Linked DNA regions of Homo sapiens. The protein of the gene in region 4 interacts with the protein of the main gene of each other region in a pairwise test. Each region holds a gene or a part of one and is shown on either strand. Other genes may lie near its edges.

Evidence for each region.
Region 1: the proteins of EYA3 (region 4) and KIF1B interact in binary tests that used the Homo sapiens proteins (3 or more experiments, as listed by UniProt).
Region 2: the proteins of EYA3 (region 4) and MECP2 interact in binary tests that used the Homo sapiens proteins (3 or more experiments, as listed by UniProt).
Region 3: the proteins of EYA3 (region 4) and APBB2 interact in binary tests that used the Homo sapiens proteins (3 or more experiments, as listed by UniProt).
Region 5: the proteins of EYA3 (region 4) and ZDHHC17 interact in a two-hybrid assay, tested with the Homo sapiens proteins (one large-scale study listed by BioGRID and IntAct).
Region 6: the proteins of EYA3 (region 4) and DNM2 interact in binary tests that used the Homo sapiens proteins (3 or more experiments, as listed by UniProt).
Region 7: the proteins of EYA3 (region 4) and PECAM1 interact in binary tests that used the Homo sapiens proteins (3 or more experiments, as listed by UniProt).

The regions. Positions count from the first base shown.
Region 1 is NC_000001.11:10,213,141-10,217,227, forward strand, and holds part of KIF1B (kinesin-like protein KIF1B), read left to right. Parts: intron 1-4,087. UniProt on the Homo sapiens protein: Has a plus-end-directed microtubule motor activity and functions as a motor for transport of vesicles and organelles along microtubules.
Region 2 is NC_000023.11:154,087,539-154,091,625, reverse strand, and holds part of MECP2 (methyl-CpG-binding protein 2), read left to right. Parts: intron 1-4,087. UniProt on the Homo sapiens protein: Chromosomal protein that binds to methylated DNA. It can bind specifically to a single methyl-CpG pair. It is not influenced by sequences flanking the methyl-CpGs.
Region 3 is NC_000004.12:41,204,063-41,208,149, reverse strand, and holds part of APBB2 (amyloid beta precursor protein binding family B member 2), read left to right. Parts: intron 1-4,087. UniProt on the Homo sapiens protein: Plays a role in the maintenance of lens transparency, and may also play a role in muscle cell strength. Involved in hippocampal neurite branching and neuromuscular junction formation, as a result plays a role in spatial memory functioning.
Region 4 is NC_000001.11:28,078,142-28,082,228, reverse strand, and holds part of EYA3 (protein phosphatase EYA3), read left to right. Parts: intron 1-1,777; exon of another isoform or gene 1,778-1,897; intron 1,898-4,087. UniProt on the Homo sapiens protein: Tyrosine phosphatase that specifically dephosphorylates 'Tyr-142' of histone H2AX (H2AXY142ph). 'Tyr-142' phosphorylation of histone H2AX plays a central role in DNA repair and acts as a mark that distinguishes between apoptotic and repair responses to genotoxic stress.
Region 5 is NC_000012.12:76,766,689-76,770,775, forward strand, and holds part of ZDHHC17 (palmitoyltransferase ZDHHC17), read left to right. Parts: intron 1-4,087. UniProt on the Homo sapiens protein: Palmitoyltransferase that catalyzes the addition of palmitate onto various protein substrates and is involved in a variety of cellular processes.
Region 6 is NC_000019.10:10,724,155-10,728,241, reverse strand, and holds part of DNM2 (dynamin-2), read right to left. Parts: intron 1-4,087. UniProt on the Homo sapiens protein: Catalyzes the hydrolysis of GTP and utilizes this energy to mediate vesicle scission at plasma membrane during endocytosis and filament remodeling at many actin structures during organization of the actin cytoskeleton.
Region 7 is NC_000017.11:64,384,276-64,388,362, reverse strand, and holds part of PECAM1 (platelet endothelial cell adhesion molecule precursor), read left to right. Parts: intron 1-4,087. UniProt on the Homo sapiens protein: Cell adhesion molecule which is required for leukocyte transendothelial migration (TEM) under most inflammatory conditions.

The DNA.
Region 1 (4,087 bases), about 18 Mb from region 4:
TAAGTTTTTAATTTTTAGAGTTACTTTATTAGTATAAAGATCTGAATATTTTTGATTAAAAATAATTTCAGCATTTGGTAAAATCAGACCTGATTGTGAATCTGATACAGAGGCTAGGTTTTATGAGTATGTGTAGCTCTGCTCTGATGAGTGTTTTTCCAAAATTTATCCAATTAAGTATAGCTTTTAAGGCTTAGAACAGACTGTTTTTCCTTTTCAAGACCAGATATGAATGCACTTTTCCTTTTTTCTCTCTTTCTTCTTTCCCATTTTGATTTCGTGCAGGGAATAAGTGTCCAAGAAAGTCTGCCAACGGAGTCTTTCTTAAGGCCAAAGCTTTTTAGCCCATTTTCTCACTGTGGTCTTGTCCTGGGTACAAAGTAAAGGACAATGGGCCCCCTGCCTTCCTGTTTGTAATCCCCTTCCCAGGCTGCTAATCATAGTAGATCTTTTCCAGGAGGAAGCATATCCTTTTGGTCTTGTAAACTAACATGATATAATTTCATAATGCTCTGAAGTTATTTTATGTCTATTTCATGTATTTCTCTTTGAAAGATGGCCTCGTTTGAACAGGTACTGGTGAATATCTGGATTCTGTGAAACAGTGTGAATAAATATGCATACTTCTTGAACTTTTTTTGTGCAGCTTGTCAGGATAGAAGAGAAATTAAACAGATGTGACTGTGGTAGGAAAAACCTGCAAAAGGTGCCTTGGGCCGGATGCAGTGGCTCACATCTGTAATCCCAGTGCTTTGGGAGGCTGAGGCGGGAGGATTGCTTCACATCAAGAGTTTGAGACAAGCTTGGACAACATAGCAGGACCCCCATCTCTACCAAAAAAAAAAAAATCTGGATGTGGGTGGTGTGTGTTTGTAGTCCTAGTGCTTCGGAGGCTGAGTGGGGAGGATGGCTTGAGTTTGAGATTACAGTGAGCTAAGACAGCGCCATTGCACTCCACTCTGGGCTCAGACTTTGCCTGCTAAAAATAAAAAGATGCCTTGGACTTCTCAGAGTTGAACTGTTTGGTTAACGGGCCACTGATTCATTGATGCTCTTTTACTATAGGCATTACCCATTAACTGAGGGTGCATGTAGAGATTTAGTTCTTTACCTTCCAGGAACTCACACTTTACCACTTCTTTCTTTCTTTCTTTCTTTTTTTTTTTTAAGACAGAGTCTCGCCCTGTCACCCAGGCTGGAGTGCATTGGTGTGATCTCAGCTCACTGCAACCTCCGCCTCCCGGGTTCAAATGATTCTCCTGCCTCAGCCTCCCAAGTAGCTGGGATTACAGGCACCTGCCACCATGCCCAGCTAATTTTTGTATTTTTAGTAGAGATGGGGTTTCACCATGTTGGCCAGGCAGGTCTCGAACTCCTGACCTTCTGATCCGCCTGCCTTGGCCTCCCAAAGTGCTGGGATTACAGGCATGAGCCACCGTGCCCTGCCCTTTTTTTTTTTTGGGATGGAGTCTTACTCTGTCACTCAGGCTGGAGTGTAGTGGTGTGATCTTGGCTCACTGCAACCTCCACCTCCTGGGTTCAAGTGATTCTCCTGCCTCAGCCTCCCGAGCAGCTGGGACTACAGGTGCACACCACCATGCCCAGCTAATTTTTGTATTTTTAGTAGAGACGGGGTTTCACCGTATTGGCCAGGCTGATCTCGAACTCCTGACCTTGTGATCCACCCACCTCAGCCTCCCAAAGTGTTGGGATTACAGGCATGAGCTACTGCACCTGGGCTACCATTTCTATATAGAAATGGTGAGATAAAGTTAACTCCAACTCCTTTTCATTTTAGTACAATTTAGTATCCTGATATGGTTTCCGTGATTTCCAGTCAGAGCATTTTCAAAATTCTTTGTAATGTTGTATGTACATAATACTGTACTTATTATCTAATACTCAATTGGTACTTTTACATTTGTCTTGTGGTTTTTTGTATAGTGTTTGAAGTCACAAGCTTGTAAATGTTTGATGGATTTAAAAATTTATATATTTTATATATATATATATATATATATATATATATATATTTTTTTTTTTTTTTTTTTTTGAGACGGAGTTTCACTCTTGTTGCCCAGGCTGGAGTGCAACGGCGCGATCTCGGCTCACCGTAACCTCCACCTCCCAGGTTCAAGCGGTTCTCCTGCCTCAGCCTCCCTAGTAGCTGGGATTACAGGCCTGTGCCACCACGCCCAGCTAATTTTGTATTTTTAGTAAAGTAGGGGTTTCTCCATGTTGGTCAGGCTGGTCTCGAACTCCCGACCTCAGGTGATCCACCCACCTTGGCCTCCCAAAGTGCTGGGATTACAGGCATGAGCCACTGTGCCCGGCCTATTTTTTGTATTTAATATCACATTGTTTATACCAAAGCATATCATTCAACCATACTACCCTCTACCATTGCCCGTTTTTTTCCCCTTGAGACAGGCTCTTACTCTATTGCCCAGGCTGGAGTGCAGTGGCGCAGTCATGGCTCACTGCAGCCTTGACCTCCTGGGCTCAAGTGGTCCTCCTATCTCAGTCTCCTGAGTAGCTGGGATCACAGGCATGCGCTACCATGCCCAGCTAATTTTTAAATTTTTGTAGAGATGGAGGTCTCACTATATTGCCTATTGCCCAGCCTGGTCTTGAACTCCTGAGCTCAAGTGATCCACCTCAGTCTTCCAAAGTGGGAGGATTAAAGGCATGAGCCCCTGTGCCCAGCCCCATTGCTCTTTTGGATTACTATATTGTTGGCTTAGTTCTCTCTTTCATCCAGATTTTTGACATCATCTTGGCAGATGTCAATGACTATGTAAATAAACAATAACAGAAACAACAATAGTGATAAAATAGCTTATTCATATTGAGCACTTTCTGTGTGCCAGGCTTTTTTCTAAGCACTTTACGTTTATTAACTAATTTAACCCTAATAGCAGCCATATGAAATAAATACTGTTATTCCCATTTTACAGATGAAACTAAAACAGGCCAAGTGACTTCCCCAAAATCATAAGTACTAGTAAGTAACCACTATGCTGAGTTTCCTTTGTAACTACCGTTAACTGTGAAATTTCTTGAATTGAGCTCAAGCAAACATTGGCTTCATTCTGTTCCAGTTGTTTAGTGTTATGGCCACATTTTTAACTTGTCATCATGTTAAGGTCTCAAATTCACCTTCAAGTCTTAAACTGTGATAATTGATAGCTTTCACTTTCATAATCACTTTATGTGTGTTCTCCCACTCTAAGTCTCCTAAACCGTCGGCCTCTTCCAGATTTTACTTCTTTTCCTTCCTTTTCTATACTACGACCTCTGGGTTGCATTGCTTGCAGTTTTTATTCTTTCTTATTATTCTTCAGGACTTACTATGCAGAAGCCAGCCTCACATCATCCCTACCATCCATACCCTCCATTCTTACTCCGTGTCATGGAGAAACCTGCATAGTGCTGGGGATTAGTGCCACAATTAATGTGTAGTCCGAGGTCTCCCTTAAATCTGTCTTTGGTCCCTGTCGGAGCAGTTCTGCTTAGCTCCCTCCCCATTTCTCCACAGTTGCTATTATAAAATCTGGACCCCTTGACTCAAACCTGTCACTGCCCCATGCTTGGCAGAATACCTTGCCTGCCACCTCATAGGAAAAAAGGGCATGAACTCCCTGAGCTTTCCCTTCCTCTACTTACAAACTTCTCTGCCCTCTTTCTTCTGTTCTTTCCCCCAGTGTGAGAAAGAGGTTACTCTGTCTTGGCCTCTGTTAGGGATAGCACTGTTCTAATCTGTAGGAACTCGCAGTATTGGTTACTCTTCTTTTCCCTGCAGTACTTGCCCATTTTCTTTTTTTTTTTTTTTTTTTTTTTTTTTTTTTTTTGAGACAGAGTCTTGTTCTGTCACCAAGACTGGAGTGCAGTGGCCTGATCTTGGCTCACTACAACCTCTGCCTCCCGGATTCAAGTGATTCTCCTGCCTCAGCCTCCCAAGTAGCTGGGATTACAAACGTGTGCCACCACGCCCAGCTAATTTTTGTATTTTTAGTAGAGATGGGGTTTCACCGTGTTGGCCAGGCTGGTCTCAAACTCCTGACCTCAGGTGATCCGCCCGCCTCTG
Region 2 (4,087 bases), on a different chromosome or scaffold from region 4:
GTAACTAAAGAGAGTACCCAGATATACATCTGGTTCTTGGGACTCTAGAGGAGGATGAGTACTTTGTAAAAACCTGGGGGCCCCAGTCATTCTAGGTCTGACACTCAGGTGCTGTATCAGCTGCAGTTTGAACTACTTGGCACCATTGTGTGGACTTTAGTTTTGTAAAAATGAATGGTTCCTTAATTTCTCAACCTTCAGGCTCAACATCTCAAGCTGTTTGTTGTTGTTGTTGTTGTTGTTGTTTTGTTTTGTCTTTTTGATTAGTGGTCACTCCGCATTTGATGTTTTGACATGTGGATTTCAGAACTTCTGTGTGGTAAAGCAGAATGTTCCAATTGAATTTTCCCATTTTTTTTCCCCTAAGCAAAAATGTGAGTTTTCACTTATGCGGCCATTGTGATTCCGACTGAGACCCTAAGTCGTTCTTTGTTGTCTCTCTAGTGGTTTCTGACACCTCAGTGTGAAGCTGTTGTAGACATCCATAAGAAATAGCCTGCTTAGGGATTATGTGAGGGCAAGGTTTGGCTGAAGGAGAATAGAAGGTGTGGAAGGAAGCGGAAGACCAGAAGAGCATCACACTGCCTCAAGTCCCAAATTTGATTCTGCTCCTGATCCTGTGACTCAAATTGTCATTCTCTTTTACTGCTGTGGGGTGTGCTCTGGGCCCAGCTGACAGGACATTCTTTGTACTCCACGTATTTATGCTGGTGGGAGTTGTATGGCTAGTGCTTTGTGCTTTGTCTCAGAAATTGTGTGGACTAAATGTAATATGGGCAGTGAATGGGTTTCTTCTGGAAGATGTTAGGCCTGGAGGGTGGTTTGGGTTTTTACGAGTCTTTTTCTCAGATTACAGATTACGAATGGATGTTATAAAACAGGCAGTGTTGACACCATACAGTTTCTCCTAAGAAATGTACAGAGAGTTCAACCTGAGGAAGCTAATTGAAAATAAACTTTTAAAAAGAAATGTAGAAAGAGGAAATTTAAAAAGTATCTTATGAATGGGAAAGATGTAGCCATTTGAGCTTCAAAGAACTTTTGAGGGAATTCTCAAAGGACAGTACCCGTCTTTAGTAGATAAATGCTTGATATCTATTTTTCTTCTTTTACTTTTTAAAGAATTACTAAAATAATACATGGATTTATAGAAAAATCAAACCACTTAAAAATTGATCAGGTGGCTGGGCAAGGTGGCTCATGCCTGTAATCACAGCGCTTTGGGAGGCCTAGGCGGGTGGATCACCTGAAGTCAGGAGTTCGAGACCAGCCTGGCTAACACGGCGAAACCCCATCTCTATTAAAAATACAAAAATTAGCTGGCCATGGTGGCTTGAGCGTGTAGTCCCAGCTACTCGGAAGGCTGAGGCAGGAGAATCACTTGAACCTGGGAGGCGGAGGTTGCAGTGAGCCAAGATCACACCACTGAACTCCTGCCTGGGTGACAGAGTGAGACTCGGTCTCAAAAAAAAAAAAAAAAAAAAGTATCAGGTAAAAAAATGAAAGCTCCCCGCTTAATCTCTGCTCCCACTACCCAGAATAACTGCTGTTAATAGCTTAATGTAGATCCTTCTAAGTCTTCTAAGACTAAACTGTGTACTTTTTGTGTTGTAATTAACAGGAGGGTTTTTGTTTTGTTTTGTTTTTTCTTTTTTTGAGATGGAGTCTTGCTCTGTCATCCAGGCTGGAGTACAGTGGCACAATCTTGGCTCACTGCAACCTCCACCTCCTGGGTTCAAGTGATTCTCCTGCCTCAGCCTCCTGAGTAGCTGGGATTACAGGCGCCTGCCACCACACCCAGCTAATTTTTGTATTTTTAGTAGAGATGGGTTTCACCATGTTGGCCAGGCTGGTGTCGAACTCCTGACCTCAGGCGATCCACCTGCCTTGGCCTCCCAAAGTGCTGGGATTACAGGCGTGAGCCACCGTGCCTGGCCTCAGGATGGTGTTATATATACATATTCTGCATTTTTCCATCTCATATATTCATCTCTGCCTCATTTCTTTTAAATAGCAGTGTAGTCCAGGGCTGACTTACCGTCATGCATTTCGTTGTCTCTCTATGTTATTAAAAATGCTACAGGATTGAAATTCCTCATGTGCCAGTCATTTTGAAGAATGGCTGCCTAGACTTGGAATTTCTGGTGGATACCACCACATCACTGTCCAAAATGGCTATCCCAGTTCCCACAACAGTCTGAGAAAGTGCCATTTTCCCATATCGTCCCAGAATTGGATATACATCTTTTAAATTGGTGCCGCTTGGATTATTACTGAGGCTAAACCTCAATAATCATTGTCATAGCTCTTAATGTATTAAAGATGTTAACTCTTTGTCATGCAGATATTTTCCTGTTTTGTCTTACGTCTTGATTCTTGTCTTTCTGATATATAAAATTTATGTTATGATTTATTCTTTTGCTTTCATACTTAGGAAATCCTTTTTTACTCTTTTTTTTTTTTTTTTTTTTTTTTTTGAGACGGAGTCTCGCTCTGTCGCCCAGGTTGGAGTGCAATGGCGTGATCTTGGCTCACTGCAAGCTCCATCTCCCGGGTTCATTCCATTCTCCTGCCTCAGCCTCCCGAGTAGCTGGGACTACAGGCGCCCGCCACCACGCCTGGCTAATTTTTTTGTATTTGTGAGACAGGGTTTCACCATGTTAGCCAGGCTGGTCTCGATCTCCTGACCTTGTGATCCGCCCGTCTCTGCCTCCCAAAGTGCTGGGATTACAGGCGTGAGCCACCGCGCCCCGCCAGGAAATCCTTTCCTACTCTTAACAACAGATCAATAGTCATCTATATTTTCTTCCTAAAAAACCTGATGATGTATTATATTCATACATACGTATTTAATACATACAAAAGGGCCAGATGCGGTGGCTCATGCCTGTAATCCCAGCACTTTGGGAGGCTGAGGCGGGTGGATCACCTGAGGTCAAGAGTTCAAGACCAGCCTGGCCAAGATGGTGAAATCCCGTCTCTACTAAAAATACAAAAATTAGCCAGGCGTGGTGGCGGGCACCTGTAATCTCAACTACTGGGGTGACTGAGGCAGGAGAATCGCTTGAACCCAGGAGGCAGAAGTTTCGGTGAGCCAAGATCACGCCACTGCACTCCTGCCTGGGCGATAGAGTGAGGCTCTGTCTCAAAAATAAAAAATAAAAATAATAATTTTATAGTTAAGTTGCCCTGTGTTTTTCCTGTGATTAAAAAAAAAAATACCTGTTTTGTATTTAACTTTGGGGTGGGATAAGGTATAGCCCACTTAGTCAGTTGTGTCTAAGCCACTTGATGAACCAGTCAATCCAGTCTTCACCTTTAACAAATGCTGATTTCTTCAAGTGAGCAAAATATCTCTTAAACTTTTTCCTATTTTCTCTATAAAGTTGCTTTTTTCTGAATTTTTTCTTTATGAGGCTTGATGGGCAGCCCTATCAGCAGACAATCATTCATTCACCCAACAAATATTTGAGTATCTGCTTCAAGCCAGGGGCAGTGCTAAGCCCTGGAAGTGGTATCTTCTCCTTATCCGGGAGTGGGGCTACAGTGTTCATTCCAGAAGACTCAAGAAAATAGCAGATCATCACAAAAGTAGGTTTTACATAAATGAGGAGGAATCCACAGGGTTGTGTATATGTGTGTGTATTTTAAATTCTGACATAAGTTGGAGCTTTAGGGTAGACTGTGACATAAGAGTAGTTTGTTTTCCAACTCATGTAATTGCCGGCTGATTTTTGTCTTGAATTATGATAATGGTAACTTCTGTTGAAACAATTCTGTATTCATCTTAGCTTGGTTGGGATGCAATAAAAGTTTTGTACTGGTAAAAATGATAATTTTCTTCCATGATGATTTTGAAGCTTTTCTGTAACACCTGATAAAAATAGAGGGGCCAGGCATGGTGGCTCATGCCTGTAGTCCCAGCTACTCGGGAGGATGAGGTGAGAGGATCCCATGAGCCCAGGAGTTTTAGGCTACAGTGAGCCATCATCACACCACTGTACTCCTGTACTCTAGCCTGGGCAGCCTCGTTCTTTAGAGTAAGACACTGTCTCTTTAAAAAAAAAAAAAAAGAAAAAAGAAAAAA
Region 3 (4,087 bases), on a different chromosome or scaffold from region 4:
CCTGGCATTACTGGAGGTATGGGATGTGTCCCTGTCGTGTAAGTCAGAGCTCAGTTTCCACACAATATAAAAGTAAATGAGTATCTCCTATATGCAGAGCATAATGTTAGCCCCACAGGTCATTTATTGTTGGTTAGTGGTTTTCACTGTTCTTATCACAATGATGATAATGATGTAGTGAATATGTCATAATTGTTCAAATAAGAAGATATGTCCTTTTCTCTGATACTATGCCTTTCTCATTTTTGGGTAAGATTCTTTTATGATTTGATAGGAATATTTTTATCTAGCCGCTGAATGGTCCATGAAATTGGTAAGTCTGGGAATCTGGGCCTGAGATGCAGGGAGGCCTGCCCTTGGGATTGAGTTGAGTCATGGAGGCCAGGCCAACATGTGGAGTTTGTGGGTCAGCTGATGGGGCCCCTGGGCTTTCCAGGAATATAGAGTCACCCAAGGTCCTAGGAACTGTGAATGAGCTAATTTTGAAAGTGCCCTAGGAGCCAGTGACTATTTTTGAATTATAGCTTGAGAATGACAAGGAAAGCACCAAGATGAAAGATGAGGGTGTAAGGGAACAGAATGGGCAAGTGGTTGAAGTGTGAATTTCAGCAGGTGAACCTCAAGATGTATCTTGACATTTGATTCTTTGCATGCAGGCCTCTTTCTGGCAAAACAACACTCTTTAGCAATTCTTAGTTAGTGATTCTAGGAAATGGTGATGGGTGAAAGCCATAGAACCTAGAATTGTGTAATAGCCAGCTTGGCCCAGACCTCTGCAGTATCATTCCCTCCAGGGTGAGCCTTGAATTGCTGGAGGAAGCTTCAGAATGATTTGCTCATGGAATTGCTGTTATTCACCTTTAGTTTTGGTTGCTATTGTGGGGTGAAGAAGGAGTGTCAAAACAATAACAACAAATTATTTCCTTTTTTTTTTTTTTTTTTTTTTTTTTTGAGACGGAGTCTCACTTGGTCGCCCAGGCTGGAATGCAGTGGCTTAATCTCGGCTCACTGCAACCTCCACCTTCCAGGTTCAAGCAGTTTTCCTGCCTCAGCTACCCAAGTAGTTGGAACTACAGGTGCCCGCCACTGTATCCGGCTAATTTTTGTATTTTTAGTAGAGGCTGGGGTTTCACCACTTTGGCCAAGCAGGTCTCGAACTCCTGACCTCAAGTGATCTGCCCGCCTCAGCCTCTCAAAGTGCTGGGATTACAGGTATGGGTCCTCTCCCTGGCAGCATCCTGCTTGCTCTTTGGTGCTGGCTCTGTTCTTACCTTCTGATCTTCCTTCTGTTTCTCAGGTAGACTTCTGTCCTGGGCAAGAGTCGACCTGCCACATTGAGTATCACAATTTGCTAGGTGGTATTGTTTGTCAGTGGAAGTGAATAAATCAGAATTTCCTTAGCATGAGTTAGGTTTCTTGAGTTGTTTCATTCCTGGGGGAACTAATACCGTTAAAATTTCCTTGACATTTCAAGAAATGATCATATACCACATTGCAAATTTTGAACACAGCAGAGGCATGATTTGGGTGTAGAGACACCTTGGGAAGCATTGATTCAGACTCAGATTCTTCAGATTATCTGATCAGAACCTCTTGTCCTCTCCAAGAACCAAGGTCTGTGTATACCTTTTCCAGGACACTGGTGAAGAGAGACATTCATTTGGTGACATCCAGAAACCTCGGCTTCATTTGTTCCTTCCTTTGTTCAGCAAATGCTTATTGAGTACATAGTTTGTGCCTGGCACTGTGCTAAGTTCAGGAGGACAGAGAGGAATGTACCAGAACATTGGTTATAGGGTGCTGCAGTAGAGGCATGTGTGTGATGGGAGTGGAGGGGAAGGAAGGCTGTCCTAATCCTGCGAGAGTGGCAAGAGCTGTGGCTAGTGACTCCTCATGTAAAATTCCCACTACAGCAAACCCTTCAGCTGCTTCCTTTGTCATCTTTCCTTAACTCAATTTTATTCCTGCCTACCACCCAGGATTTGCTACTCCTTTTGTAAGGGAACTCGGGATTTGGCCTTTCAAATCTCTGTGGCAGTAGTTCTTAAGCAGGACAGTTTTGCTCACTGGGGAACATTTGGCAGTGACATTTTGGTCATGGTGACTGTGGAGGGATAACTACTGGCATCTAGTAGGAAGAGGCTAAGAATGCTACTAAATATCCTACAACATGTGCAAGGATAGCCCTAGAAGGAGGCAGCAGGGGTTTAGTGGTCAAGTCCCAGTGCTGCTCTGCAATTTAATAGCCATATGACAAAGGGCAACAGAATTGTACTTTGACAACAGAATTACACAGTGCTCAGTTTGCTCATCTGCAAATAGGAATACTAATTGTGCTTATATAATATGATTGTTGTGAAGATTTCATCAGTGAATGTATAAGGGCAGAGAACAATACTTGATGTGAGATAAGACCTTACTTAACGAGTATTTTTATTTTTAGTTTTAAACAAAAACTTTACCTTTTGACTCTAAAGAGCTTGAGTTTAGAGTATCCAGGGCAGTTGAGCTTGTAGCCCTACCTGTAAGTATGCTTTGGTGTAGGAAATGGCCATAGTTTTTGTGTTTTTCTAGTTCCTTTTTGTCCGTTGGCTTTATTTCCCATTGTCTCATCTCTTGAGATTTTTAATAGCTTTGCCTTTCATCCCTTTTTTCCCAGGGACCCAAATTTATGCCCTTAATGAGCTTTTCCCTAGAGGGCTGAGAATTATATTTATGATTTTCCTTAGCTCTGTCTATTTTGGGAATGGTGAGAAAATGGGAAGCGGGTCAGGGGAGATGTTGCATTACTTCCTGATTGCCATAGCTCCCTTCTCTGTAAAATCCCGTGAAGGATTGAGAGGCAGGTGGTAGTGCTTGCTTAGTAACTCTTCCCTTTACACCCACCAGCTCCACTCCCAAGTTGGGTGCCTACTACTTCCAAAATACCCCGTAATTGGGTCACAACATTATCTGCCTGCTTGGAATCATATTTAAAAATCAAAGCAAAGATGCAGACTATGTCAGCAGGATTTGAAATGTTTCCATCCTCTGCTTTGAGGCTTTGCAGAATTATTCTGAAAACAAAAGAAGGTAAACTTGTTATCCCAATGAGGTGGCAGTTTCTATGTGGCCTAGAATTATGCCTAATTTTTGCTTGTAAAAGGGCTCAAACCATGATCCTTTCTGACTTTCCACAGGGATGTGAGCTTTTGTGGACATCACTCAACAGATCAGATTTACTGTTGAATTTTCATAACATAATTGACTTGGAAAGCATTTCATTCAGTGTTTTGAATGGTGACTAGAGAGAAATTAAGAAGCTCAGTTGTTATATCTTTCGAATTCCTTTCCCATGACACAGTCATCTCTCCCCTGAATGAGAGCAGTGGCCTCCTGGCTTATCCAGCTCTGTTCACTCAGTTTGGCTTCCCAAGTGCTGGGCACTGTTCCAGATGCCACACGTGGACACTGACCAGGATGGCCACTGCCTCTACCTGCTCGGAGCTCTGGGTCTATAGAGAAAGGCTGACAGCTAAGGAATGAATGACGGTACTATGTGATACGTATTACTGGGAGAAATACTCAGTGCTTCCCAGACGAGCACTTATCCTGCTTGGGTGTGGGGAGTGTGTGGGGCAAAGCTTCCAGGAGAAGGGATGCTAAGTCTATTCCACAGTGCACCTGGACCTCTATCTTATGGTTCCTTAAGGCACCCTGACTCTAGCTCCCGCATGGAGCCTGCTGTTTCTGAATGCGTGCCTCCACCTTCCCTCCCACCTCGGTTGCTTCTCACCTTGGAGGCTGCACTTGCCTTTTTCCTGGTCTCTTTCTGTTTCTACTGTACACTGCCTCCAAGGTGATCTTCTGAAATCTTCTGCAGATCTGGGCATATCATCCCAACTCTTCAGGGGCTCCTTGCTGCCCTCAGGATGAAGTCTAAGCTTTTTGATGAGGCACCGAACATATTTCATGATCTGCTTTCCATCTCGTTCTTACGACATGCCAGATTTTCTCTGGCCTTTCGGCTTTTATCCCCTGTTGCCATTGCCTGCGACCATCCCTCCTGTCTGTTCTTTACCGCCTTTCAGTACTCCTTCAGGAAGTA
Region 4 (4,087 bases):
ACAGAAAAAGTATAAATATTTCTGGTAAGAAGTGACATTTGATTAGGAATACTAATTTTAATTCTCATGTTAACTCTTATTAATTGAGACATTAAGTATACTGTTTTTTTATAGTAGCTTTTGTCCTTTTTCCACTTGGTGGGAAAGTATTGTTATGGAGCTGAACAGAGTAAGCTTTGCTATGATGATAATACTTGTTGATATTTAGAATGTTCTTTACTTTTAGTTAAACATTTAATTTTTGATTCAAAGCAATTCCCTTTTAAATTGCTTCTGCAATTTAATTTAATTTAATGGCTTCCACATTCAAAGCAATGTGGGTCTGATAATCAGTGTATTTAAACATTTCAATAGTTTTCTTTCACCTGAAATTTAATATTGTAGCAATTACTGAATTTAGGAAAATTGGTAGGTAGTTGCTATCAGCACCGTTACTACGGGAATACATTAGAATGATTAGCTTTTAGGTGAAATTGAATTTTTTCTTTAGTTTCCATAGTGACTGAAAACGATTTAGGTCAGCTTCACCTGTTGTGCCCCTCCCCCTTTTCAAAATAAGAGGAACATTTAATTTAGCACAATGATGTTAATTTTTTCCTAGTAGATTGATGAAATGAATGTGATAATCTCACTCTCTTTACCAAAAGAATAATCCAATATATACATGTATGAATTTTGGGGGAATATTTCAGACTTTAGAGAACATTATAGGATAAAAAATAGTACCTAAATATCTTATAAAAATCAGTGTTTTATTACATCACTGAATTTTTCTCTTTTAAATTTAAAAATGTCAAATTTAGGAAACATCTGTGATAATTTAAAGAATAATTTTTGAAATCTGCTTTTGCTTTTCACCAGGTGTTCTTCTGCTATAGGTTAGGAAGCAGTAGTTAGGCAACACTAATGAATAATATTCTTGAGAGTGAGAACTAGAGCTTCACAAAGAGAATAGGCCATCTCTCATATTTAGTGGGGCATTTAATAGGTAGATAAACTGAAAATTTTTGCTTTCATTTCTATGTATTTTTTGTTAGTATGTATTTATTTACTGTAGGTACCTCACATTCTGTGCAAAAAAAAATTTTTGGAAGTAACTCAGTGGTTTCCTTTATCTTTTTTGTTCTCTTTCAGAGGCTTGCTTATATAAAACTACAATTTAGAGAACCATCGGCCGGGCGCAGTGGCTCATGCCTGTAATCCCAGCACTTTGGGAGGCCGAGGCGGGAGGATCACCTGAGAGGCAGGAGTTCAAGACCAGCCTAGCCAACATGGTGAAACCCCGTCTCTACCAAAAAAAAAAATACAAAATTAGCCAGGCATGGTGGCAGGCGCCTATAATCCCAGCTACTTGGGAGGCTGAGGCAGGAGAATCGCTTAAACCCAGGAGGCGGAGGTTGCAGTGAGCCGAGACCACGCTATTGCACTCCAGCCTGGGCAACAAGAGCGAAACTCCGTCTCAAAACAAACAAACAAAAAAGAGAACCATCAAACTCTGAATGTTGTTTCCTCTGTAGTATGAAGTGGTTATTTTCTTCCCTTTTTGACTGGCCATTTTTTTTTTTTTTCTGATAAAGTGGCTTTTAAACTTTTCTGATCATGACCCACTATAAAATACATTTTACATTGCTATCCAGTACTCAGACACATATATGTACATATTAATATTTGAAATCGAAACAGAAGTTTCTTGAAACAGTATCTTTACTACTGGTGATGCATTGTAATATTAATATTTTCTATTCTATTTTGTTTGTTTGTTTGTTTTTTGAGACAGGATCTCACCCTGTATCACCTGGGCTGAAGCGTAGTGACGCTATCACGGCTCACTGCAGCCTCGACCTCCTGGGCTCAGGTGATCCTCCTGCCTCAGCCTCCCAAGCAGCTGAGACTACAGGTGTGTGCCACCATGCCTCACTAATTTTTTTTGTTTGTTTGTTTTGTGTTTTATAGATGCGGTTTCACTGTATTGCCCAGGCTGGTCTTGAACTCCTGGGCTCAAGTGATCCTCCTGCCTCAGCCTCCCAAAGTGCTGGAATTATAGGTGTGAGCCACTGTGCCTGGCCTCTATTTGTTTTATTGTTTTTAATTTAAAACAAACTGCTGGTTTCCATTCACTAAGTTGATATCAGTGCCGTTACTACGGGAATACATTAGAATGATTAGCTTTTAGGTGAAATTGAATTTTTTCTTTAGTTTCCGTAGTTAATGCAATGTACCTGCAGTTTGCAAAATTTTAGTGACTGCTAGATCTTTCCCCTAATATTGTCTTTTTGTAATGGAAAATGTTTAGGTTTGGGGCCAGGTGTGGTGGCTCATGCCTGTAATCCCAGCACTTTGGGAGGCTGAAGTAGGAGGATCACTTAAGCCCAGGAGTTCAAGACTAGCCTGGGCAACATAGCGAGACCCTGTCTCTACCAAAAAAAAAAAAAAGAAAATGTTTAGGTTTGCTAGTTTTTTTCTCTGCAATGTACGTGGATGGATTCTGTAAAACTTAACCTAAATAGCTGCAGAACAATCATTGAGAGAGGGAGGTCCTGTTGCCCTGATTACCATTACTGTCATCCCTGTTCTTTACCATTTCTAGGCACATTATTTTAAAAACTTATTTTGGAATCGTGAGGTTGAAAATGCTCGGTTGTATGCTGAGCTTCTATCGTTAGAATCCTTTGCTAGTTTCCATCTAACAGTCCAAAGTTTAGGTCCTTTCAGTTGGTTTTCACAAACCTTGCTTCTGTTCTTGGCAACTAGTCAAAAGGTTACAAAGCTGCTTTATTCTGCTCTCTTCTGGCCCAAGTCCAGTCTTTGTAAACCAAAAAAAGAGGACTGAGGAATGAAGCAGTTTGCTCATGTGTATATGGTCAGGTGAAATAACATGACTGAAGAGTAATTAGGGTTTGCGACAGTGGATTACATTTATGTATTGTCCCAATTCGTTTCCTGTAATCACAAAGGGGGAAAGGGCGTAGAAATATCAACAGTTCCTTGCCTATCCTAGCTGGTAGAGTGAAACAGGGTCAGCAGACATACTCTACTATTTTTATACCACTACCTGCTCTTAACACTTAGTGAGCACTTACTATGTGCCAGGCACTATTTAAAGCACTTCACTTGTGTTAACTCATACTCATACTTGGGAGGCCTGGGGAAAAAAAATGAGAATGGTAAAGGATAAAGAAGAAGACTTGCCATCTTCTCGTATGTTCTCATTACTTGGCTTAAGAATTCTGGCTGTTGATGACTATAGTATGGCATATCATACATTTTAAGCTCAGTCAGCTTTTAAATATCACCAGTCCTGTCTGCATTGTTCCATTATGAGACACATAGCTGTGGTTTGAGAACTCAGGCTTTGAAGCTAGCCTGCCTGGGCTCGAATACCAGGTTGGTGACTTACTATGTGTATAGCATTGGGGAAGTTACTCTCTGTGCCTTAGTTTTCTCATCTGTAAAATGGTGATAATAACAAATAGCTTCTATTTTATAGACTTATTGAAAGATTAAAATAATTAATGTATTACCTGGGCATGGTGGTGCATGCCTATAATCCCAGCTACTCAGGAGGCTGAGGCATAAAAATTGCTAAACCTGGGAGGTGGAGGTTGCAGTGAGCTGAGATCATGCCACTGCGCTTCAGCCTGGGTAACAGAGCGAGACTGTCTCAATTAAAGAAAAGAAGAAGAAAAAGAAATAGTTAATATATTAAAAGTACTTAGAACGGTACCTGACCCATAAGAAGCATTCCATAAATGTTTGCTATTAATAGTATCAACTCACAGTTGGAGCTCCTGAGAGTGTTTGTGACTATGATGAGTTCTGTATATTTGCTGAGTAACAGGGCATGATTGACATTTAATGTTATATTGCTCAGGAGCTTGAAAATATCTTGTCTTGAGGACCTGTAGGGAAAGTTCTTGTGTAGCGTGTTGGATTTAAAGCTAAAGGTTATCAAGGCTACAGGCCCAACTTTTAAAATCTCTCTTAGGAACCACTTGTTATTTGGGCCGTAATCTTAATAGTTTTAATGGTTTGCTATTTGGGAAAACTTAAGTGGAGCTAGTTAGTGAATTGACTTTCATTCAAGACC
Region 5 (4,087 bases), on a different chromosome or scaffold from region 4:
AGTGCTTAATTTCTTTAAGCTTCAGTTGTAATCAGAAAATGGAGATCCTGGCTGGGCTCGGAGGCTCACACCTGTAGTCCCAGCACTTTGGGAAGCCGAGGTGAGAGAATCACTTGAGCCCAGGAGTTCGAGACCATCCTGGGCAACATGGCAAAACTCTGTGTCTACAGAAAATACAAAAATTAGCTGAGCATGGTGGTACACGCCTGTAGTCCCAGCTAATCGGATGCTGAGGTGGGAGGATTGCTTGAGCCTGGAAGGTTGAGGCTGCAGTGAGCCATGATCGAGCAGCTGTACTCCATCCTGGGTGACAGAGCAAGATTATGTCTCAAAAAAAAAAAAAAAAGAAAAGAAAAGAAAATGGAGATGCTGCCTAGTTTACTTGGCTGTAAGGGATTAAGTGAGGCTATATGTTGAGGGTCAAGAACTGGCACATTGTAGGTGCTCAGTTAATGTTACTTCTTTTTTCTCTACCAGAAGAAAGGGAAGTGTTACACATTTATTTTGGTTTTGGTGACTGATTTAAAACTTATGTGGGTTTTAATTTAGTGGAATAGGATCTTGCAGGAACAAATTTCATTTCACTTTTTATCTTCCAATTTAATACTCTCACACAAAAACAGTTTTTCACTTTAGTATTTGTTAAGCAGATGAATTATTTGTGGGTAAAGAAATGAGCATTGCTTAAATCTCTTATTAGTATGCAAACTGCCCACTGTTAAAACCTTTCTTAGAGGATTATACAATTAGATAAACGCCTTTTTAGAGGTATTTTAGGTAAGATAATCTTACTTTTTAATGAATTAAATCATCCACTCATTTAGTTGGTCATTTAAACATTTGTTTGTCATGTTTGGGTAAGGAATTGTGCTGGAGTCTGTGTGAGACTTCAGGATATTTTTGGTGTTCAGTGAGAGGCAGTGTAGAATACTGGTTAAGAGCCAAAGTTGGCTGGGCGTGGTGGCTCACGCCTGTAATCCCAGGGTTTAGGGAGGCCGAGGCGGGCGGATCACCTGAGGTTCGGAGTTCAAGACCAACCTGACCAACATGGAGAAACCTTGTCTCTATTAAAAATACAAAATTAGCCATGCGTGGTGGCACATGCCTATAATCCCAGCTCCTCAGGAGGCTGAGGCAGGAGAATTGCTTGAACCCGGGAGGTGGAGGTTGCAGTGAGCCGAGATTGCACTCCAGCCTGGGCAACAAGAGCAAAACTCTCTTAAAAAAAAAAAAAATCCAAAGCTGTGGTGACAAACTGAAAATGTAGCTTCTGCAGCTTACTGTTATCATGGTCAAAGTACATTTTTCTCATTTGTAAAGTTGGGTTAATAGTGACACCTTTTACAGTTATTGTGAATATTAACTAGGCTAATGTTTATAAAGCAGTTTTCATAGACCTAGGCACATAGGCTGCCAAGCAAATTGTACCTTCTGAAGGCCCTGGCATATAGTGAATACTGAAAGGGAAGCTGCTGTTACTTTGTTTTCTTTTGAAATAGGTGATTATTTGTTTTATTGAAATGAAAGAAATTAAAGGCTCTTTGGATAAAGAAGAACTGATGATCAAGGGATTAGGGTACTAGTTCTAGCTCAGTGACCTTGAGCTAGTAGGTATTTAACTGGTCTCAGTTTTGTTGCTTTTAAGATAAAGTAGCTAGACTAGATGACCTCTAAGATTTCTTCAGACTCAAGTGTTCTGGTTTTAAATTGTGATTTTTCAATATAATCAACTTGAGCATCTGTCTACTAGGTACGTAGCATTGTGTTAGGTTATATGGGTTAAAATAACATAAAAAAGATAGCATATGTTTTCCAGAAGGTAAATAACTAGTTGGGAAGTTGTAGGCACGTGAAACACTGGACGATTCAAATAAGTACTGAATTAAGTAATGTAGCTTGTAAGTGGTGTCAGATTCCTGTCATTTAGAGTGGTTAGAAGAAAGGCTTCCGTAGAGGGACAGAGACCATATGTTGGTCTACTGGTCCAGCAGACTAGCCATGACCAGCTTCCATTTTACCTACTAGTACATCCTCAGTAAGTCATCTCAGCTCTTTGATAGAATGAGATCACAATATCCCCTTCTGCCACAGTATCACAGGGGCTATTTCAGAACCATCTGACTCAGAGCTTTGAACTGGATTGCCTAGATTATCTAGGGCTTTCATCTCTTTCTTTCTTCCTTTTTTCTCTATTTCAAAACTTCTGCTATTGCCTTTTTTTCTCATTTTCGTCTCTCTTTTTATGGTAACGTTTTTTATTTCACATTCATTTTATTATTTCTGATGATTTCTGTTTGAATATTAAATCAAACTATTGCTATTATCTACTGTCCTCACAGATTTCATAAAATCTACTTTTTGAAGCTTTTGGTTTTTTGCTTTAGTTTGAGATGGAGTTGCGCTCTTGTTGCCCAGGCTGAAGTGCAATGACGTGATCTCGGCTTACTGCAACCTCAGCCTCCTGCGTTCAAGCGATTCTCCTGCATCAGCCTCCCGAGTAGCTGGGATTACAGGTGCCTGCCACCACACGTGGCTAATTTTTTGTATTTCTAGTAGAGATGGGGTTTCACCATGTTGGCCAGGCTGGTCTGGAACGCCTGACCTCAGGTGATCCACCCGCCTCGGCCTCCCAAACTGCTGGGGTTACAGGCATGAGCCACCATGCTCGGCCATGAAGCTGTTCTTTAGTGAAAAGAATTTTGCCATTTTCTATTACTTTTTGCCCTATTATGTATATATTATATGTGTGTGTGTATATATATGTATTTGTACACATATAAGGTAATTCATTTGCTTTCAGAAAGCAGATACAAAATGACTTTGAAAGTTGTTTTTCTTCCCATAGGTTACCTGCAACTCTTTTCCTTCAAAGCACTTCTTTATGCAGTCACTAGGATTTGATGCCTTTTAAAAAATTCAGCAAAAATGTTATAGGTCATATAATAATAATCTAGATTTTAAAATAATGTATATTTTAAAATACTATATATTAAGCTTAGTAACTACTATGCTTAGTATAGTGACCACTGTTAAGCCCAGTAACCACTGAGCATTACTATTAAGCTTAGTAATCACTGAGTCAATAGATATAAAATTAAAATGTGATTAATTGGTGAGACTTCATGGATTGTGCTCAAAGCCAGAGTTGAAAATTACTGACCAAAAAATTGTTCTGGTTTTGAGAAATGTCATTTTCCTGATTCGGCTTGTTTTATTTTGTTCATTATTTTTATTTAATTTGGGAGGATCTCAAAAGTATTTATTAAGAGTGGACTGTGGAGTTGGTGGATATAAGAGTATATAGGTTAAAAGTGAGCAATGGTGTTAGGATTCAAATCTCAATTCTGCTCACTAGCTTGCAATCCTGGGCACGTTATTGAACTCTGCATCCCAATTTTCCAAACTAAAATGGGGGTATAATAACACCTACTTTATGAGGCTGTTGTGAGGATTAAGTGAGATAATACATGTGAAGTTCTGTGTCTGGCACTTAGTAAACAACAATAAGTGTTGGCTATTAATATTGTGGTAAAAAGTAGTACCTCAAATTGATAAACAATTGTAGTATGCATATATTAGAGTGGCTAAAATAATTAGTATTGGTTGTCTCTGGGGATTGAAGAGAAGATGGGCAGAGGACTTCTTATTATAAGCCCTTTTGCCCTATTTGATGTTTTTAAAGACGTGTGCTTTGCTACAAGGGAGTGTTTATTGAGAATCCAAGTATGGTCTTGACCCTTTGCTAGGCTCCGAAGTAATAACATTTACAAAATAACACATTGTAAAATGATGTAAGATTAACTGTAGACCTTCAGATACCTCAGGATAGATGAGGGAGAGTGTGTCTGTGTGTATTTTTTAAAATTAGAAATGATTCGTGGTCCTCCTTTCCTCCTAGAGAGGGTTGTAAGGGTATGTTAAGGTAGTCAGCATTGAACAGTTAAGGTGTCTTAAAATGCAGTGTGCTGGCCGGGCTTGGTGGCTTACGCCTGTAATTGCGGCACTTTGGGAGGCTGAGGCTGGCAGATCTCCTGAGGTCGGGAGTTCGAGACCAGCCTGACCAACATGGAGAAACCCCGTCTCTACT
Region 6 (4,087 bases), on a different chromosome or scaffold from region 4:
GGTCAGATCTTGCACATGTGGCACACGGTGATTCTCCATAAACACTGGCTCTTAACATCATAAATGTCCAGCAGCAGATGAAACTGAAACAGTCATCCAGCTCCCGGTTCAAGCTACGGGTGACGCCACAGGGGAAAATTTCCCACCACCCAGCAGGGACCTAGTTACCAATATTCACAGAAACCCAAAACGCACCCGGAAGCAGGCGTCTTTCCTCTCTTTGCAGTCCTGCTTCAGACGCAGGGCCACATTTTCCCTTTATTCAGATTGTAGCTAATGCCCTATAAATATCTCATTATTGGCTTGGATTTTTCCAAAGCTTTAACACAATAAGGGCTTAATTACAGCTTGTAGTTGGCAATCCCAGTAAATTACGGTTTACATGATGTTCTCACTTTTTTTCAGCAGCCGAGGGGCCTATAATTTCAGCACTTTCATTCAAATCGGGCAGAAGTTTGGCAGATGTGGCTCTGAGCCAAATATAAACGCTGAGAGCGACAGCGAGACAGGGTTCCATTCAAAGGCCAGCCTCTACCGCCTAAGCCAACTCTGAAAACTCTAAATCTAACCTAGGCCGGGTGCCGTGGCTCTTGCCTGTAATCCCAGCACTTTGGGAAGCCGAGGCAGGAGAATCACTTGAGCCCAGGGGTTTGAGACTAGCCTGGGCAAAAAATAATGAGACCCCACCTCTACAAAAAATTTCTTAAAATTAGCTGGGGGTGGTGGCGCACACCTGTGGTCCCAGCTAATTGGGAGGCTGAAGTGGGAAGATCCCTTGAGCCCAGGAAGTTGAGGTTGCTGTGAGCTGTGATCACGCCACTGCATTTCAGCCTAGGCAACAGAGTGAGATCCCGTCTCAAAAAAAAACAAAAAAAGAAAAAGAAAAGAAAAGAAAACCTCCTCTCTAAATCTACAACTGTCCCCAAGGCCATCTTCCGCCCTCATCCAGAAACAATCCAGGTTATTACCAGGGGATTTCAATGTTATGAACCTATCAAGGGCTGTTATCCGTCAATAAGTAACTCTGAAAAAGCACTTGGACAGCCTAGAGCGCAGCTTTGGAGAAATCTGTCTTCCTGATTATAAACCTAATCCCCAAACCAGCAAAAACAAACCAAGAATCACATGGGGAGACGATTCACATGTGGGGTTAGGGCAGAGTATGTCTTTCCGGTCTTTTCACTGAGCAAATACAATCGTTTTAAACAAGACAGGATCCCACAGCCCATTTCATCTGGTACCTAACAGGTCTTGTGCAGCTTTCTGGGTCATTAAAGATTCTTCTAGATCCCTCTGAGTAGCGAGTTGATAGTCGGTTGTCTGGACACGCTTATCTGGCCAAATCCCCTATCATTGGTTTTTGTTTGTTTGTTTGTTTTGAGACAGAGTCTCGCTCTGTTGCCCAGGCTGGAGTGCAGCGGCGCAATCTCGGCTTACCGCAACCTCCGTCCCCCAGGTTCAAGCGATTCTCCGCCTCAGCCTCCCGAATAGCTGGGATTACAGGCGCCTGCCACCACGCCCGGCTAATTTTTGTATTTTTAGTAGAGATGAGGGTTCACCATGTTGGCCAGGCTGGTCTCGAACTCCTGACCTCTGGTGATCCGATGCTGGGCATTTTTTCTCCCATTTCTCATCACCGTACACAAAATGTGTGTAAATAACTCTCACGGCCAATTACTTGTTTGCAGCCATGATTCCCACTTAGAAAGGAACCAGGAACAACTTCTGGTCGATATTTCAGGATCTGGGGAACAGGGCGTGCCTGCATGTCCTGGTCCTGGCTGTATCCCCAGAGCAAGAACATTGCCTGCACTGATAGGCACTCCATTTATATCAACAGAGTAATGATGAGTTCCTTCTCTTTAAGGAAAAAGAAACTAAGGCCGGGTTCGGCGGCTCACACCTGTAATTCCACCACTTTGGGAAGCCAAGGCAGGAGGATCGCTTGGGCCCAGGAGTTTGACACCAAACTGAGCAACAAAGTAAGACCCTGTCTCTAAAAAAAAAAAAATTTTTTTTTTTTGAGGCAGAGTCTCGCTCTGTCGCCCAGGCTGGAGTGCAGTGGCACGATCTCGGCTCACTGCAACCTCCGCCTCCCAGGTTCAAGCGATTCTCCTGCCTCAGCCTCCCGAGCAGCTGGGACTACAGGTGAGAGCCACCACACCCACCTAATTTTTGGATTTTTAGTAGAGACAGGGTTTCACCATGTTGGCCAGGATGGTCTCAATCTCTTGACCCCGTGATCCGCCCGCCTCGGCCTCCCCAAGTGCTGGGAATACAAGTGTGAGCCATCGCTCCCTGCCAAAAAAATTTTTTTGTAATTAGCCAGGTGTGGTGGCTCATGCCTATAGTCCCAGCTACTCAGGAGACTCAGGTGAGAGGACCACCTGAACCCAGGAGTTGGAGGCTGCAGTGAGCCATGATTACGCCACTGTACTCCAGTCTGGGGGACAGAGCAAGAGAAAAGAAACGTACACCTGTCATCAGAGTCCTGATCCCAGATAAAAGGAGACAAAAGCCAACCAACGAGATCACAAATGCTGCCTGTTTCACAACAATTTGCTACGTGATTCTCAGTCCACTCCCAGTAGGCAGAGACCACCATGTTCCCATTTTCCAGATGAGGAAACTGAGGCCCAGAGAAGTGAGGTCACTTTTTTGGTGTGTGGCAGAACCAAGCCTTCCATATTCCCACAGATCCCTCTGGACTGTACCAATTCCAGCAGGCCCAGCACTGCAGACCACCCTAACCGAGCCTTGCATGGCCTTTCCTTTTTTCCTTTTTTTTTTTTTTTTGAGATGGAGTCTCACTCTGTCCCCCAGGCTGGAGTGCAATGGCGTGATCTCCGCTTACTGCAAGTTCCTCCTCCTGGGTTCAAGTGATTCTCCTGCCTCAGCCTCCCAAATAGCTGGGACTAAAGGCATGCGCCACCACACCTGGCTAATTTTTGTATTTTTAGTAGAGATCGGGATTCACTATGTTGGCCAGGCTGGTCTCAAACTCCCAACCTTGTGATCTGCCTGCCTCGGCCTCCCAAAATGCTGGGATTACAGGTGTGAGTCACCATGCCCGGCCATGTATGGCCTTTTCAAGATGCAATTTGTCTTTGCCCAAAAGGAAAGTCACTGGAAACAGAAGATGTCATTTCCAAGTGGCTCTAAACTAATAAGATCTGTTAAAGGGACAAACCAGCCCAAGGAACACATCACGTGCCCCTCCATCTGTCAGGGACAGGAGCCAACGGGCATCCGATGTGCACTGGTGCAGCACCCACTGAGGCACAGGCAGTGCCCCCGCGGCTCATCCACATATCCCTGGAGGGACACATCACCAAAGGCCAAATAAAAACGCAGCTGGAAACGCCAGCATCCCCGGCACAGCTGCTTCTTATTAAAAGAAAAATGGCACGGGGCGCCTACATGCCTGTGGAGTCTGCTTACTGAGAAAACTGAGTTGAAGCTGGAAATCAAAGGAGAGAGCCCTCAGCTTGGCCAGGTCCAGAGGGACAGCAGTAGCGCCACCAGCTTTACTTCCCTCTGCTCAGACAGCCTCCCTGCCCACAATGTTCCTAGAGGCCTGGTCCCACCCTAATATCTCCCAGATCTGATCTCCCTCCACTGGCCTGCTAAACTGGCCTCCGGGCATCCTCCCACATCAGGACCTTTGCACTGGATTCTCTTCCCGTCTCCAGGGGTTCCTTCCTCGCCTCCTTCAAGGCTCTGCTCAAATGTCACCAATTTCCCTATTTAAAATGTACCCCCTCTGGCCAGGCGCAGTGGCTCACGCCTGTTATCCCAGCACTTTGGGAGGCCGAGGCGGGCGGATCACGAAGTCAGGAGATCGAGACCATCCTGGCTAACATGGTGAAACTCCATCTCTACTAAAAATACAAAAAATTAGCCGGGCCTGGTGGCAGGCGCCTGTAATCCCAGCTACTCGGGAGGCTGAGGCAAGAGAATGGCGTGAACCTGGGAGGCGGAGGTTGCAGTGAGCCGAGATCGCGTGACTGCACTCCAGCCTGGAAGACAGAGTGAGACTCCGTCTCAAAGAATAATAATATAATAAAATAAAATGTACCCCCTCCAA
Region 7 (4,087 bases), on a different chromosome or scaffold from region 4:
GACTGTGACTCCTGCCCTACCCACTCTCCCTTTGTCCACTCCAGCCCTCGTACCCTCCCAGACCACACCCTTTGGGCCAGACCCTGCCCTGCAGACACTCACGCTTTGGGGTCCCTCTTTTTCTTACCCACAACATCCTGTTTCCCAAAACCGTGGTGCTCTCCCCTCTCCCCCTCCACACCACATGGAAGTCAATTGCTCCCTCCTTTGGGTTCCTAGAGAATGAATGTTCTTTGTACCTTCAGGGAAGACGTTGGAACTGCAGCACATGGCACAGGGAGCGACTCTCCCACTGCCTCCTCAGGCCTCTGCCTTGTTTTACACTCAAGGAAACAGACCCAGAGGCCACAAGGCACCAAGCAAGCAGGGTCAACACTGGGGGTGGGCAGGGCGGCGGCTGGAACCAGGTCTCCATTCCTTAGGCCCCCTAGGCCAGCATTTGCAGTGCGTGGCCTGCAGGCTTGCTCTGAGTCTCCCGCTCTGCGGCTGGGGTCCTGGGACAGCCTCGGCCCTTTCCCTTCCTTCCATCTCAGGCCTCTTTGTTCCCCTCCAGCCCGCACCTCACTGCAGCTGCCTCACCTCAGGAGGTGACGGCTGCTCCATCTTCACCTAGAAAACAGTCATCTGGAGGGAACTCCCTCAACTTCCCGCCTGGGCCTGGCTGCAGGCTTATCAGCCTCTCCACCCATCCTCTCGGTTTCCCTCCCGGCCTCGGAGGACACATGCACCCTGCTCCTCAGCTGATGGGGGCCAGCCAGGCACTTAGGCTGAGACCCTTCCTCACCCCCAGGACCCCACGCCTACGTGCATTCAAGTCCCTCTCCCCTACCACCACTTCTAGAATCTCTATTTCTGCTTCTGGCTCTGTTCTCTCAGTGAATGGGAACTCTTTTTTTAGGAAAAAGAAAAATCACAAGCAGACACCCACCCCCACCGTTTATCTGGTGTCCCCCTATCTGGCCTTTCTAGTTTCCTTTCTCAGTCGAACCTCTCTGAAAGTTAGTTTATAATCTGTGCCTACCCACCTCACCTCTCAGACACGCCTCGCCTCCCAGCAGCCTGGCCTCAGGCCCCACTTCTCCGGCTGTTGGGTCTCCTCTTGCTGAGGGGTCACCAAGGACCACCTGATGCCAAATGCAACGGACACTTCCAGCCCTCGGCTCCCTGTACCCCTTTCCTGCCTTTGACTTTTGATCGTGCCCCAAAGCCTCGCTCCTTGACCTTTTCCATCCTCTTCCCTGCTTTGTCTCCTCACTCTCTAACAAACCCTCTTCCTTCTCCCCCATGGCTGACTTTGGACTTACTTTGTCTTCTCCTGGAGTCTGAACCCTGTCCTGGTCTCTGCGGGCTCCTGGTCTTATCCTCCCTGGAGACCAGCTCCCCTCTCAACACCTCCACATTCCCCCCTCCTCCCCTAAGTTCACACTCCTCCCACCTTCACAGTCCAGCCCTGGCCTCTGCCCTGAGCCTCCAGTTAACACAGGCTGACCTTTGATGTCTCCTCCCAGTCCTCCTACTGGCCCCTCACACGCAGCTGCACCACCATCACTTTGTCTTCCTTCCTTATCTTTTTCTGTTTGTTTGTTTGTTTTTGTAGAGACTGGGGTCTCATTTTGTTGCCCAGGCTGGTCTCAAACTCCTGGGCTGAAGCCATCCTCCTGCCTCGGCCTCCGAAAGTGCTGGGATAACAGATATGAGCCACCACACCCAGCTGCGTGTGGCATTTTCTATTTTAGTTTGGTGGCACACACATCCTCCTGGGAATCTAATCCAGGAAGTTTATCTTCCATTCTTTCAACCCCATATCCAATCAAACAAAGTCTTTTTTTAAATTGTGGTAAAATACAAATAATATAACATTTATTATTAATGACATTTAGTACATTCACGGTGTTGTGCAACCATCACCATTGTCTAATTCTAGAACATATTCTTTCTTTTTCTTTTTTTTTTTTTTTTGACAGAGTCTCACTCTTGTTGCCCAGGCTGGAGTGCAGTGGTTGGATCTCAGCTCACTGCAACCTTCACCTCCCAGATTCAAGCAATTCTCCTGCCTCACCCTCCTGAGTAGCTGCAATTACAGGCACGAACCACCATGCCCGGCTAATTTTTGTATTTTTAGTAGAGACAAGGTTTTGCCATGTTGGCCAGGCTATTCTCAAACTCCTGACCTTAAGTGATCCACCTGTCTTGGCCTCCCGAAGTGCTGGGATTCATTCTAGAACATTTTCAACACCCCAGAAACAAGTCCTGTTGAGTCCACTCAGGAGATCCCCAGCCTATCCTTCCCTCATCCCCACTGCACCCGCCTAGCTCAGGCCTCATCAGCTTTCACCTGAACCACTTCCAAGCTGTTTACTGGCCTTGGGTGCTGTCACACCCCTCCTGACACCCTCAGGACAGGGCCCAGCTTGTCAGCACAGCAGGCCAGCCCTCCATTCTGGCACGACAGACCCAGCCACCTGGCCTCTCTAGCCCCACACTCTGGTTTCTGTAATGGGCCATGCCCAGAAGGCACGGATTTCTCACACCCTCGTGTCCTGGGACACGCTGTTCTCTTACCTGGAGTACCCCACTGCCTGTCCTTGGCCTGGCAGGCTCAGTTCAGTGGTCACTTCCTTCAGACTCCTTGACCTCTCCTGGGCAGCCCTTCCTCTTGGTGCTTACTGATATCACTGGAGTCCAGCTATGTGGGCCCCAGCAACCTTTGCTGTTTGGGACAGCAAGGATGATTTCTTACTTACTCTGTCAGCCCAGCACCTGGCACAGGTTCTCGACACATGTCTCATTGGATGGGAACTTGAACTGAACTTGGAGATGCTTGAGATTCGGGTAGGAAGATGGCTCAGCATGCTCTCTGATGAGCACAGAAGTTCATCAGGGACTCTATGCTTCGTGGCTCCCAGTAATTTTCCTGACGAGGGTGGGCAGCCCCTCCTTCTCCTGCACCCTCCACTTTCTCTCTGAGTCATTTCCAGGTTGAGGGCCAGGGGGCTGGCTGACTGATGGTGCCGCATGTTTCCAGGGAGCACCACCATCCACTGATGAGTGGCCTTGAGGTCAAGGTCCCACTGTTTTTAGCATGTTGGGGTTTGGCACTGTGGTCACTGGCTGTTCCGTGGTGACTTTCCAAATTTAGATCCTTCTCCGTCAACCTTCATCTCCCCGGGTTGAAAAGATCTGACCTCTTTAGGCTGTCCCACAGCCCCACCCTTCATCACAATAGTCCTGAAACTTTTTGGGTTCAGTAAGGAAATCTGTGGGCCTTCTCTCCAGAAAAAGCACACATTTGCACACAATTGGAGGTAGTTGATGAGCCTCCTAACACCCACCCATGCACCTCCCAGGGGCTGTGTCCCCCAGGTTGTGAACAGTCACTCTGTGTAAATAGTGAGACCTACAGGCAGTAATTCAGTTTGGCTGTGCTTGGCTGGTTTATTTAGAAAGATGATAATGTTTTCCATATTATCAAAACAAGAATCAGGCAGAGACTTTTGAAGTTTGGTTGCGTGGTATATTTGTTACCTATTGCTGCATAACAATTTACCTAAAACTTACTGGCTTAAGATAACACAGATTTATTATCCTGAAGTTTCTGAGGGTCAGGAATGCAGGAGTGGCTGAGTTGGGTGGTGCTGGCACCGGGTCTCATTAGATTGCAGATAAATTGTTGGTCAGGGTTGCGGTTATCTGAAGGCTTGACTGAGTCTGGGGAATCTGCTTCCAAGCTCACTCCTGTGGCTATGGGCTGGAGGCCTTAGTTCCTCATCCTGGGTACCTTCCACAGGGCTGCTTATGCTATGACTGCTGGCATTCCCCAGAATGAGGGATCCCAGACAGGAGAGAGAGTGATCAGGATAAAAGCTGCATTGTCTTTTATTACCTGATGGAGTATTTTGTTGGTTAATGTTAACGTGGGAGGTGACCACGTGTAAGTGTGATGAGCAGAGGGCAAGGACCATTGGGGGGGGCATCTTGAAGGGCTTCTATAGCAAGGGAGGTGGTGGTGGTTGTGGCGGTAAAAACTAGGTCACTGTTTTTGTTGTTTTGTCGATGATATTTGTGTTAAGATGAAGAGCTGAGACTC